3 separate regions of the Homo sapiens genome follow, and all the other regions are linked to region 2. Evidence: fine-mapped expression QTL. A gene starts in region 2. Each other region holds a variant in brackets. All regions are shown on one strand. Distances are from middle to middle.

Region 1 (4,352 bases), 200 kb before region 2:
TGAGGATAACAGAGGTTGGTTCATAAGGTTTAAGGAAAGAAGCTATCATCATAACATAAAAGTATAAGGTGAAGAAGGAAGTGCTGATATAGAAGCTGTAGAATGTTATCCAAAAGATCTGACTAAGATAATTGATAAAGGTGGCTACACTAAGCATACACTAAACACAGAATTTTTTTTTTTTTTTGAGACAGAGTCTTGCTCTGTCGCCCAGGCTGTAGTGCAGTGGCACGATCTTGGCTCACTGCAACCTCCACCTCCCTGGTTCAAGCAATTCCCCTGCCTCAGCCTCCCAAGTAGCTGGGATTACAGGTGTACACCACCAAACCTGGCTAACTTTTTTGTATTTTTAGTAGAGATGGGGTTCACCATGTTGGCCAGACTGGTCACGAACTCCTGACCTCAGGCAATCCGCCCACCTCAGCCTCCCAAAGTGCTGGGATTATAGGCGTAAGCCACCGTACCCAGCCAACAACAGATTTTTTTAATGTAGACAAAATGGCCTAGTATTGGGAGAAAATTCCATCTAGGACTTTCATAGCTAGAGAGAAGTCAATGACTGGCTTCAAATCTTTAAAGAACAGTCTGAATCTCTTGTTTAGGGCTAATGCATCTGGTGGCTCTAAATTGAAGTCTACATCTTTTATGATTTCAAAAATTCTAGAGCCCTTAAGAATTGCCCTAAGTCTACTCTGCCTATGCTCAATAAATGGAAAACAAAGCCGGATGACAGCACATCTGTTTACAGCATGGTTTACTGGATATTTTAAGCCCACTGTTGAGACCTACTGCTCTGAAAAAAAAAAATGATTCCTTTCAAAATTCCTGCTCATTGGCAATGCATCTGGGCTCTCAAGAGCTCTAACGGAGATGTACATGGAGATTAATTTTGTTTTCATGTCTGCTAACACAACAATTCTGTAGCCCATGGATGAAGGAGTAATTTCTAATTTCAAGTCTTATTATTTAAGAAATACATTTCATGATGCTATAGCTACCAAAGATAATAATTCCTCTGATGAATCTGGACAAAGTAAACTGAAACTTTCTGGAAAGAATTCACCATTCTAAATGCCATTAAAAACATTTGTGATTCATGGTAGAAGGTCAAAATATCCACATTAACAGGGATTTGAAAGAAGTTGATTCCAACCTCTGTGGATGACTTTGATTCAAGACTAGTGCAGGAAGTAACTGCAGACATAATGACAATAACGAGAGAACTAGAATTAGAAATGGAGCCTGGCCAGATGCAGTGGCTCACACCTGTAATCCCAGCACTTTGGGAGGCCTAGGCAAGAGGACTGCTTGAGGGCAAGAGTTCAAGACCATCTTGAGCAACATAGTGAGACCCTATCTCTACAAAAATCAAAAAATGAGGCATGCATAATGGCACATGCCTATGGTGCCAGCTGCTCAGGAGGCTGAGGCAGAAGGATTGTTTGAGCCCAGGAGGCTGAGGCTGCAGTGAGCTGTGTTCATGTAACTGCACTCCAGTCTGGGTGACAGAGTAAGATCTTGTCTCAGAAAAAAAAAAAAAAAAAATGTGACTGAATTGCTACAATCTCATGATTAAACTATAATAGATGTGGAGTTGCTTCTTATGGGTGAGCAAAGAAAGTAGTTTCTTGAGATCAGTCTACTCCTGGTAGCGATGCTGTGAACACTGTTGAAATGACAACAAAGAATTTAGAAGATTACATCAACTTAGTTGATAAAGCAGTGACAGGGTGTCAGAGGATTGCCTCCAATTTTGATAGAAGTTCTACTGTGCATAAGATGCTATCAGATAGCATCTCGTGCTATAGAGAAATCTTTTATGAAAGAAACGGTCAATAAATATGGCAAACTTAATTGTTGTCTTATTTTAAGAAATTGCCACAGCCATCCTAAACTTCAGCAACCACCACCCTGATCAGTCAGGAGCCATCAACATCAAGGCAAAACCCCTCCACTGGCAAAAAGGTGATGACTCACTGAAGGCTCAGGTGATCATTGGCATTTTTAGCAATAAAATATTTTTAAATTAAGGCAGGCACACTG[GTT/T]TTTTTTTTTTTTTGACATAGTGCTATTGCATACAAGAGACTACAGTATATTGGAAATATAATTTTATATGTGCTAGAAAAAAAATTTTGTGTGACTTGCTTTATTGTGAGATTGGCTTTATTGCTGTAGTCTGGAACTGAACTCACATCTCTGATGTATGCCTGTGTATACATATCAAAACATATTATTTACCATATATAAAATAAATATGCTTATAAAAATAACTCAGAGAGATAGAAATTATTTTTAAAAAGAAAAGGATGAAATAGAAATTTGGGGTTGAAAATTACAATAACTAAAATGAAAAATTCACTCAAGAGGCTCAACAGCAAATTTGAGATGACAGAAGGGAGAATCAATGACTTGACAATAGAACTGTAGTTATAATTCAGTCTGAATAGCAGAGAAAAAAGATTGAAGAAAAGTCAACAGAACTTCAAAGGCCTTTGGAACAACATCAACCATACTAAGCATGTGTAATTAGAGTCCAAGGTGGAGAGCAAAAAGAGAAAAAAATAGAAAAAAAAATTAATAATGACCAAAAATTCCAAAGTTTAATGAAAAATATTAATCTACATATTCAAGAAGCTCAATGAACTTTAAGCAGGATAAAGTTTCTACACCCAGATGTGTCATAGTTAAACTGATGAAAGATAAAGACAAAGAAAAAATCTTGAAAGTAGTAAAATTGCTCATCATATGCAGTTAGAAAGAAGAAAAGAAAAAAAAGGCAAAACAAACCACATATATGATCTGTGTATCTGTGTGTCACTTCAAGTGATACACAGAAAGTGTTTAACAAAATCTGACACCAATTGATAATTTCAAAACTCTTAAACTGGGAAAAGAACCTACCTAAACTGATCAAGGACAGCTATGAAAAAAAACTACAGCTAATATCACACTTAACGAGAACACCAAATGTGATGGCAGTGGCCATCACGCTGGCTGCAGTAAGGAGGCATGGCTCAGGCTGCACGCACCATGGAGCCGGTGGCAGCCCCACCCCTTCTGAGTTGGAGCTGCAGCTCTTCCCGTGCCACTGCAGCTGCCCAAACCCAGCTGCAGACCCAGGCCTCCTGCTCTATGGAGCAAGCAGAAGCCCCTTCCTCCTGGATGGGACTACAGCTGCCCAAACTGCAGCCCTCGATGGGAGCCTCCTTGTGCTCTTGGGGAAGGCCTGGAGCAGGCTGGATCTGCCTTCCCAGGTGCGGCTGCGGCCACCCTCCTAGGCGCAGGACCTGGGCGTCTCTGCACCCTGCACCCTAGAGGGCTGCAGGAAGGACCCTCCCCCGTCGCAGGTTCGGGGGTGTCTGCTCCCACTGCCTGGCCTCTCTCTGCTTCTGATGCTGGTTCTGATCTTGAAGTGGGGTTGGGGCAGTGACCCGGGGCCTTGAATTTGAATGGCAGTGGGAGGCAGAAAGAGTCCTGGGTGGAAGGGGGTAGGTCCCCAGTAAGTCTCCACCTTCAGGACAGGGAGGGCCTGAAGGCTGAGGGCCAGGTGGCCAGTCCGTCACCAGAGTGGGAACTCATGGTGCCTCTCTGGGCCCGCCCATGGCCACCCATGGGCCAATCCCCATGCACTTCCTCCCCTCTGAGGTCTATAAGAGCCCTGGGCTCAGCCAGAGCAGTGCAGAGTATGGCCAGAGGACCCAGAGAGTAGAGAGAGTTCATGGGACTGGGTGACCAGCTTCAATGAGACGTACCCTCTCTGCTGATAGCTGGAGACAATGGGACGACTAACTGCAGAGAAGAGCACCCTCTCCGCCGAGAGCTGCAGAGACGACCTGCAGGCAGAGAGGAGCTACCCTCTGCACTGAGAGCTTCACAGACCCGGAGAGACTCCCGCGGAGAGGAGCCACCTCTCCAGGACCTCCTCTCTGATGAGAGAGGAGTACCCTCTGGGACAAGAGCTGCAGAAATTACCTGCCGGCAGAGAGGATCTACCCACTCTACTGAGAGCTTCAGAGACCTCTAGAGACACCTGTGGAGAGGAGCCATCCTCTCCAGGGCCTCCTCTCTGCTGAGAGCTGCAGAGACAACCTCTCCAGGGACTCCTCAGCTGAGAGAGGAGTGCCCTCTCCGCCAAGAGCTGCAGGGACGACTTGCTGGCAGAGAGGAGCTACCCTCTCGGCTGAGAGCTTCAGAGACCTGCAGAGATGCCTGCGGAGAGGAGCCACCCTCTCCAGAACCTCCTCTCTGCTGAGAGCTGAACACTCGACGGGACGACCTGTCCACAGAGAGGAGCTACCTACTCCTCAGAGTTGTTCTGACACTAAGTAAAACTCTTCTTCTTCACTCTTCAC
Region 2 (4,352 bases):
ATGGTATTCAACACCCAGTATTAGTCAAAAGAATATGAATCCTACACTGTGCATCAAAAGGTGTCAAATAGCTTTCACACAATATTTTCTGAAAGGCATGTTAGATTCTCATGGGCTTTATTTAGTTTAACAAGTTTCACTAGGGGAACCTATTTCCTAAAAGTTTCCATAGTGAATCTGATACCTTCAAACCGCTGTCTCAGTAGTCAACAAATTTGCCTAAAAGTTAAAATCAAGCAGTTTATTATATGAAACAATTTTTCCTTAATATCCACAACCTAGAGACTCATTCTAAACTCACTGAGAGGTTAGACAAGCTTGGATTATCGCTGTTACAAAAGAAGTTCCAAACTTTCTCTATGCCTTACATCTCTTTTACTATAGGATGACGCTTCTTAACCTCTTCTCTGAATACTGTTCTTAAATATACACAGGATTTACAAGAAAACTAATTCTATTAAAACAGTCATAAAAAGTAAACGCGATATATATATGTGCTTCTCTGTTGCATTCAATAAATTCAGTGATGTGTTACTATAATTTTGAATAAGTATAAACAGTATTTCTATATTAACTGCAATGTGATATAAACATATTTTATGATCTCTACTGATGACAGTCACAGATACTACTGTGATTTGTTGCTTATATTTTAACTGAATATTAGTTTTTAAAATTTAGTGAAATGATATACCTTTCTTTCCATCCAAGTTCATGGGTTACCTAAATTGTATGAAACCCACTATTTAGGAAGGCTTGATCAAAATTTCATATTTTACCAGGGAAGAAGTCTTACATAGAATTATTCTGGAACATCAGTATATGTAAAGCAAGGTACTAAAGTATTCCCTATGCTTAACCATTCTTCACCCCAGGGTTAAAATCAGTTTCTAGTGTCTGGTCTTTCCACCAATGACTGAGGTGTTGACCAAATGTGCTAGATCTAGAAAACATACTTTTATTTTAGAAATGTATTATATTTTATCACCCCTAAAACCTTTCCCCATAAGGTGATTGTAAAACCGCCTCATTCTTTAAATTTCTACAACACACACGTCTTACCATGGCTAACATCTTAACAAGGCAGAATCTATTTGTGATTAGATGACACTGAAATGTAGTTCCCTACCTTCCTTCCACTCATTACATTATTTAGAAGACTTTTTAAGAAATAATTTTTTTTTAGGGAGGCAGGCACTTCGTAGAACCCCCTTCACTAAAACTTTGCACTACTGGGAAGTCTCAGCTCGCCGTAACCGACTCAGTCCGGCCTAGCCGATCCCGCAGTCCCGTGACCCGCGCGGTCCAGAGCGAGAAAAGGGAACAGCGCAGGGCTCCCCGGAGCAAGGACCCCACCACACCGCACCCCACCCCACCCCCACGCCAGGCAGGACGGCCGAGGCGGGAGGACGCTGCGGTCCAGGCGCTCGCCCTCCACCCCGGTCCCGGCCCGGGCCAGGCCAAAAAGCTCGAGAGCGCGGCATCCCCGCCTGCTCCCCTCCCATCCCCGGCGAGGAAGTCACCTGAAATGACCGGCCAGGGAGCAGCGGCAGCACCACACGGGCATGGAGCGCTGCGCGAGGGGCGCCCGAGCGCGGCCGCCGTGGCCGCCTCCGCCTCCCCCGGCGAGGCTGCCCGCTCGGGGCGCCCGCTGGCTCGGGGTCGCGGGGTCTGCCGGGCGCCCCTGCCTCGCGCCTCGCCGTTGCCGCGGCTGCCCCGGCTCTGTGGCGCCGGAGTCCGCCTCCAGATAGCGGCTTCCGCTCCTCGCCTGCAGGGAGCCAGGCGCCGGAGGCGGGTGATCTCGGGGCGCCGCGATAGGGGCGGAGCGGGGCGGGGACGCTGCGACGGCGGCTGCAGCGGCGCGCGGGCCCCTCCTCGCAGGTGCGGCTGCGGCGGGCGAAGTCTGCGATTGGTGGAGCCACGGCCCGGGCGAGGGGCCGGGCCTGATGGAGCCGAGGCTGCGCGGGCAGGGGACCGAGGTCTGCAGGCAAACTGCGCGGCTCGACCGGCGGCAATCGAGACCTAGACCTCGGTCAGCGCCCCGCCGCCCCTCTGCGTGCGACTTGGTGAGGCCGGTGGGTGCGCGTCGAGAGGGCCGAGGGACGAGCGGAAGAGAAGCTGCTGCGAACTCGGGCCACCCAGATGGCCCGGCGGAGTTCCCTGCGTAAGGCGCGGCCTCGGCCACTTCGCCGAGGACCCCGGGAAGGGTCGAGCTTCCCACGCCTGAGAACCCACCTTTGGGCATTTCCTCGCGCTGCCGGGGTGCAGACGCCGGGAGCTTCCGGGTGCCTCTCCCGCTGACCCCCGCATCACAGTTACCTGGAGGACTCACCAAACCACAGGTGCCCGGGACCCGCCCACCACGCTTCTTTTATGGAAGTCCCGCTTCCGGGAAGAGGTCATCCTCCCCTCTTCATGTCTCTCAAACACCCACAAGTGTAGGAATTACCAGCACGCCGGGTGAAAATCCAGGTGCTCATCAGGCCCGCCCCAGACCACACCGGCCAGTGTGGGGAAGGGCAGGAACCCCTGCTGCTTTTTAAGCCCCTGCGGGCGTTTGTGATGCAATAGGGAGTTAGAAAAGTACTCAATAGTGAGTGTCGTTATTCGGTTTGTCAAAAATTAAAGGTGGGGAGGACAAAAATCAGGAGAGATTGATTGCATCTACTTTTCTACGGAAATGTCTAACTCCGCTTCCAAAAAAAGCCGTAATTATTTTTGTGCTTCAAATATACGTTTATGTTTATATCTTTCAACATAATTTTGTAAAACAAATGTTAAGTTTTACTGAATGTTGTCACTGAACAAACTTGTGATGAGCAGGTATTTTAGAGTCTTGGGGTCTTAAAAGAAAATCATAGGACTCAGACTGCCCCAGAGTTATGCAATCTAAGAGTATATTAACCACTTTTAAGTATTATATGTTTTTCTCTTTTTTGAGCTTTTGTCGATTTGACACGTTCATTTCATTTGAATGTTGGTTCTGAAAATGAAGCATGTAGTTACTTTTCCGTTAACATACATAACAGCATTTTAAAGTACCTAAATTCCTTTTGGAAGGCCGAGGCGGACGGATCACCTGAGGTCAGAAGTTCCAGACCAGCCTGACCAACATGGTGAAACCCGTTTCTACTAAAAATACAAAACCTAGCCCCGGGCGTGGTGGCACGCGCCTGTAATCCCAGCTACTCAAGAGCCTGATGCAGGAGAATCGCTTGAAACCGGGAGGCGGAGGTTGCAGTGAGCTGAGATCGCGCCACTGCACTCAGCCTGGGCCAAAGAGTGAGACTCCGTATCAAAAAATAATAATAAAGTACCTGGCCGGGCGCGGTGGCTCACGCTTGTTATCCCAGCACTTTGGGAGGCCGAGACGGGCAGATCACGAGGTCAGGAGATCGAGACCATGGTGAATGGCGTGAACCCGGGAGGCGGAGCTTGCAGTGAGCTAAGATCGCGCCACTGCACTCCAGCCTGGGCGACAGAGCGAGACTCCGTCTCAAAAATAAATAAATAAAGTACCTACATTCCTAAAAGCAGTGCTTAATTCTGCAGCACATATACTAAAATTAGAATAATATAAAGATTAGCATGGCCCCTTCCCAAGGATAACACGCAAATTCGTGAAGCGTTCCGTATTTTTAAATATATACACCTACTATGTAACCAAAAAAATTAAAAATAAACATATAAATTCCTGAAAGCTATGCCAGTCCAATCCAGATAATTCTTTTAATTTTTAATTTTTATTTTTTGTGAGTACATGGTATATATATTTATGGGGTACATGAGATTTTGATACAGGCATACAATAAGTAATAATCACATCAGGGTACATGGAGTATCCATCACCTCAAATATTTATCCTTTCTTTGTGCTACAAACAATCTAATTATACTTAGTTATTTTAAAATGTTCAATGAATTATCGTTGACTAGTCACTCTCGTGCTGTCAAATACTAGATCTAATTCTGTCTATACTTTTGTACCTATTAACCATCCCCACTCTGCCCCTTAATTCCCCACTACCCTGCCCAGCCTTGTAACCATCATTCTATTCTCTGTTAGTTCCGTTGTTTTAATTTTTAGCTCCCACAAATAAGTGAGAACATGCAGAGTTTGTCATTCTGTACCTGGCCTATTTCACTTAAAGTAGTGACATCAGTTGCATCCATTTTGTTGAAAATAACAGGATCTCATTCATTTTTATGGCTGAATGCTACTACGTTGTGTACATAAACCACATTTTCTTTATTTGTCTATTGATGGACACTTAGGTTGTTTCCAAATCTTGGCTGTTGTGAACAGTGCTGCAATAAACATGGGAGTGCAAGTATATCTTAGGATATACTGAT
Region 3 (4,000 bases), 38 kb before region 2:
TTTTGCTTTATAGTGGGTATAGTGTAATTCACTTTTAAAAGTGCTTTTTTCTCAGTTATTTTAAAATAAGGGTTATTTAGGAAAGTCACTTATGAAAGTAGAGTTGTTAAGGTCACTCAGGATACTTATTTTTAAAAAATGAAAGAATGGAAATCACATCCTTTCTCCTTTTCTTTTTTGAAAGAATAATTGGCTTATTTTGTAACATGTGCATTCCACAGAATTATGGCAGTACACAAAGAATGAAGATGTGAAAACCTAAAGCCCAGAAATTACCTATTTAAACAGTTAAGTGAACAATATTCCAGACATCTCTTCATTGAGGAGTAGTGAGAGGCAGGGACAGACTGGGAAGGAAGAGAGAGACATTGATAGGAGGAAGTTAAACTGAAGGCATTGCTGAATTTCTATAAATGTTTCTTCCCTCCAAGATATTTTATTTTGTGAGATCTGTCTAATATTAAGGAGGAAAACTATAAAAATCACTGTAAGTCGGAATGGGTAGTTTTAAACTTCATATTAACTTCACATACAATTATTTGTTGGCTCGCTACAGTGAAAAGTGAGGACATTATTAGTACTTCCTCCCACCTAGCCTCCCTTACCTTATGCCAGTCCTGTTTTTCCCTTTTTAGGTGACTTGCATGCATGACCAGTCATCTTTCTTAAGCTCGAAAGCCAGTAACACTCAGAATACATCTCAGTGTTGATCATTCTCCATTAGTTTTTCCTGACATATAGTATGCTGTTTTGATTTGCAGGTGTAATTCTCTTTCTCAAGGAACTTTTTTCTATTATATATTTTAAATATTTTATATTTGCTGGGCTCTCTATAAGACATTTAAGACATAACTATCCTTTCATTGGATTACCTTTGTCGTCCACATCTATTTTTTCTGCATTCACTGTGGTTTTCTTAGGCTCTTTCACTGTATCAAAATTTTACATTTCAGGTGTGTCTATAATGTTTCTCACCAAGTATGTGACCTTAGGCAAATTACTTAATGTCTCTGCTTCCATCTGTGCAGAATGAGAATAATAATAGTACCTTTATTTCACAGACATATGAGGATTAAATCAGATACTACATATAAATCATTTATAACAGTGGGAAGTGTTAGCTATTTCTAATTTAATTCTGAAAGGCTGTTATTATGGTTCTTTTACTTAGCATTTGTTCTTTTTTCATTTCATTGTTCTATTATCTGATTTTTTGTCATTATTTCATTGCTTTCATGTTTCTATTTTACTTTTTATTCGTGGATTATTATTTCCTGCAGATTAGGTTCTTTATCTGTTTTTTGCATGTTCTGTTCCAATATCCCTTTTTTTTTTTTTCCTCTAGTAGATGGAGTAGCTTTTCTGTTTTTTGCCTTCACTTGAGTAAAGGGAAATGTCTTTTCCAGATATTCTGTTTGCTACATAAAGGATCATATGCCATCTCATGCAGGGATTACATTCAGAAGCCAGTTTGTGAGACAGAAATTCAGTATAATCAAAATTACTTCTAACATTCTTGTCTTGCCCATAAGAACAGAATTCAGCCAGGCACAATGGTGTGGCTCATGACTATAACCCCAGCACTTTGGGAGCAGGAGGATCACTTGAACCCGGGAGTTAAGAGTAGCCTGCACAACATCTTGAGACCCTGTCTCTACAAAAAAATAAATAAATGAAAATTAAACAAACAAACAAAAAAACACAACAAATTAGCGGGTCATGGTAGTGCATGTGCCCATAGTCCCAGCTACTCAGGAGGCTGAGGTGGGAAGATTGCTTGAGCCTGGGAGGTTAAGGTTGCAGTGAGCCATGATTGAGCCCCTGCACTTCAGCCTTGGTGACAGAGCAAGGCCACATCTCAAAAATAATAATAATAAATAAAATAAAAATTAAAGAACAGAATTCCCTCATGCCTCACTGTCAGTATGGCATTATGCTGAAACAGTCAGTGGCACATGGCATATCCCATCTAGTTTCTGTTGTCTGAAGACATTGAATCTGGGAGAGGAAAGGCTCAGCTGGAGCTGTGTGCAGCTTGGGCTAGCTGTCTCCTGGGATTTTAATTAAATGTCCTATACCAGGGAGTGTGCCCTATATAAAAGAGAATAACCTAGCATTATTAGGTTGTTTACCTAATTTGTTAGGGATCCTTGGAGCCTATGTGTTTGGTCAGTGTCAGCCCTGCTTCTTTACCTTCTACACCATTAGTCCCTTCCCAGCAGCCCACTGGCAGTTGTTTTCCCTGTTCAGGTTACCTTTTCCCCAAATTTGGGGCATTAGTAAGAATCCTCAGGTTTGACCAGTTG[T/C]GTAGCACTTTTAATGGATTGAGACAGTATTAGGAATCAGCTGCATCAGAATCATTTGGTTCTTTTTACAGCTGCACTTTTTAAGCGTATGGCATGGCTTAAACTCTTCTCCTTGATTAATTAACACTGTCGAGTTTTGTTTGATTAATTTTAGATGGGAGAAGTTGAGAGAATGATGATACATCATACAGCTGCTGACTTTTTTCTATTTTTTTTTTGCTTATTTCATTAGGAATTAGATGGACTGTGTTCTAGATGATTTCACCAAATCACTTCTCTTTTTGCTAGAATCATTTTAGTTGCTATTGGTAGGACTTACTCTATAACAGACTTGACTTGCTTTTGCTGCATGGCTACTGCTTATTTATGTAAATGTTCTGTACTGCCATCTCATTTCCCTGTTTGCTGCAGCTATTCTTTTTCTATATTCCCTCCCTATTTTTCTTTTTCATCCCTTCTTTCTCTACCTCTGCTGCAGACCCACCAGTCTTGATTTTCATAATCACTGCGTCAGTTCCTGAAGTTCCCTTGAATTTAGGATATTTTCATTGTGTACATCAAACATAAAAATTATTTGAACTGTATCCAACCTGATTTGAATTTGAAAGACTGTGAGTAGTAGTTATCTCAGACCTCTGAAAAATGCCAGTAATATGAGGCATTTCTGTTTCTTAATACTATTTTATATGTTTTTACTGAAATATATGAAATAAAACTGCTTTCTCCTCAGTGGTTTTTCCTTACTATGCTACAACTTTATTCCCCAGGCAACCTCTAAGAATGTTTAGAAAAATGTTGCCAGTAGTTATTTTGACAGCTGTTTTATTAAAATGATGTCTTCCCATTTATGTTTTGCTATCCCTATTAGAAAATATGAAAAGATAAGATGTAATTTTGTTTCACTATATGATAGAAAAATCAGTCTGTAAGATCGAATCCCTGCAAGTCACTCTTGTAGGCTTGCTCTAGAGATTCAGAAGCCCTGAGGCAGCCTCGTTAAGAGCTGGTGCTCTTAATAAGGTAGACCTGGTCAAATCCCAGCTATTCCATCTGAGTTCCCCTATCTTCTGCAGGTTTACCTAACCTAAGTCTCTGTTACCTCATTGGTTAAAACTGAGATAATAGTATAATAGTAATGAAGTTACATGAAGATTAAGTGAGATTTCATATATATATATACACACACACACATATAGAGAGAGAGAGAGAGTTTAAGATAGTATCTGGAAGCATTCAAATGTAAATTAGTAACAGTAAAAATAAACACAGTAAGTCCTTAACATTGTCAGTAGGTTTTTGGAAACTGCAACTTTAAGCAAAATTACATAACCAATATTTTTTCTCATTATTACAACAAAACAACATGATTCAAGGAACTGCTGTATGTCATCTCACTTACAGTTGCAGTTTCCAAGAAATATCAAAAACATTAAGTCAGGACTTACTCTATCTGTATTTAAGGAACTTCTGGTCTTTTAGAGAGGATAGGGTACAAATATAAATAATTATAACAGAAGGTAGAAATTGATAAGCATCCTGGGAATTCTGTAGCTGAAGTTTTGGGAGAGTTCTTCACAGCAGGCATTATTTTTAGAAGAAGGGGATCAGGAAGCCTTTGCTAAAGAGGGGAAGAACATGTTCCTTGAAACATAGTAGGCACTAAATAAGTATTGAATGAATGTACCTTTAAAGAT

Alleles and levels. Alleles are on the strand shown, and positions count from the first base shown. SD is a standard deviation of normalised expression in the study named. Not every link is listed here.
For the expression in subcutaneous fat of the gene that starts at base 1,791 in region 2, allele T in region 1 goes with a higher level than allele GTT (large effect, 1.1 SD a copy in FUSION).

The links. PIP is the estimated chance that this variant, and not a neighbour inherited with it, causes the effect.
Region 1: its variant is the best candidate, but not a certain one, in a credible set for the expression of OSGIN2 in subcutaneous fat (FUSION, PIP 0.71).
Region 3: its variant is the best candidate, but not a certain one, in a credible set for the expression of OSGIN2 in blood mononuclear cells (TOPMed, PIP 0.86).

The regions. Positions count from the first base shown.
Region 1 is chr8:90,097,525-90,101,876 of GRCh38, reverse strand. No RefSeq gene overlaps it. Among named protein-coding and RNA genes, the nearest start is that of CALB1, 17 kb to the right of the region's middle. RefSeq lists enhancers at 2,791-3,462, 3,463-4,135. The variant GTT/T (reference allele first, on the strand shown) is at 2,044.
Region 2 is chr8:89,900,009-89,904,360 of GRCh38, reverse strand. OSGIN2 (oxidative stress induced growth inhibitor family member 2) reads right to left here and starts at 1,791. Exons shown (of 6, transcript NM_001126111.3): 1 at 1,524-1,791. The coding sequence starts at 1,567. LOC124901974 (a long non-coding RNA gene) reads left to right here and starts at 1,955. Exons shown (of 2, transcript XR_007061001.1): 1 at 1,955-2,342. It also overlaps the pseudogene RNU6-925P. RefSeq lists silencers at 167-226, 1,220-1,669, 1,700-2,039, 1,789-2,087 and enhancers at 2,381-3,146, 3,147-3,912.
Region 3 is chr8:89,937,964-89,941,963 of GRCh38, reverse strand. The region is part of intron 14 of NBN (nibrin); the gene reads left to right. Among named protein-coding and RNA genes, the nearest start is that of OSGIN2, 37 kb to the right of the region's middle. The variant T/C (reference allele first, on the strand shown) is at 2,307.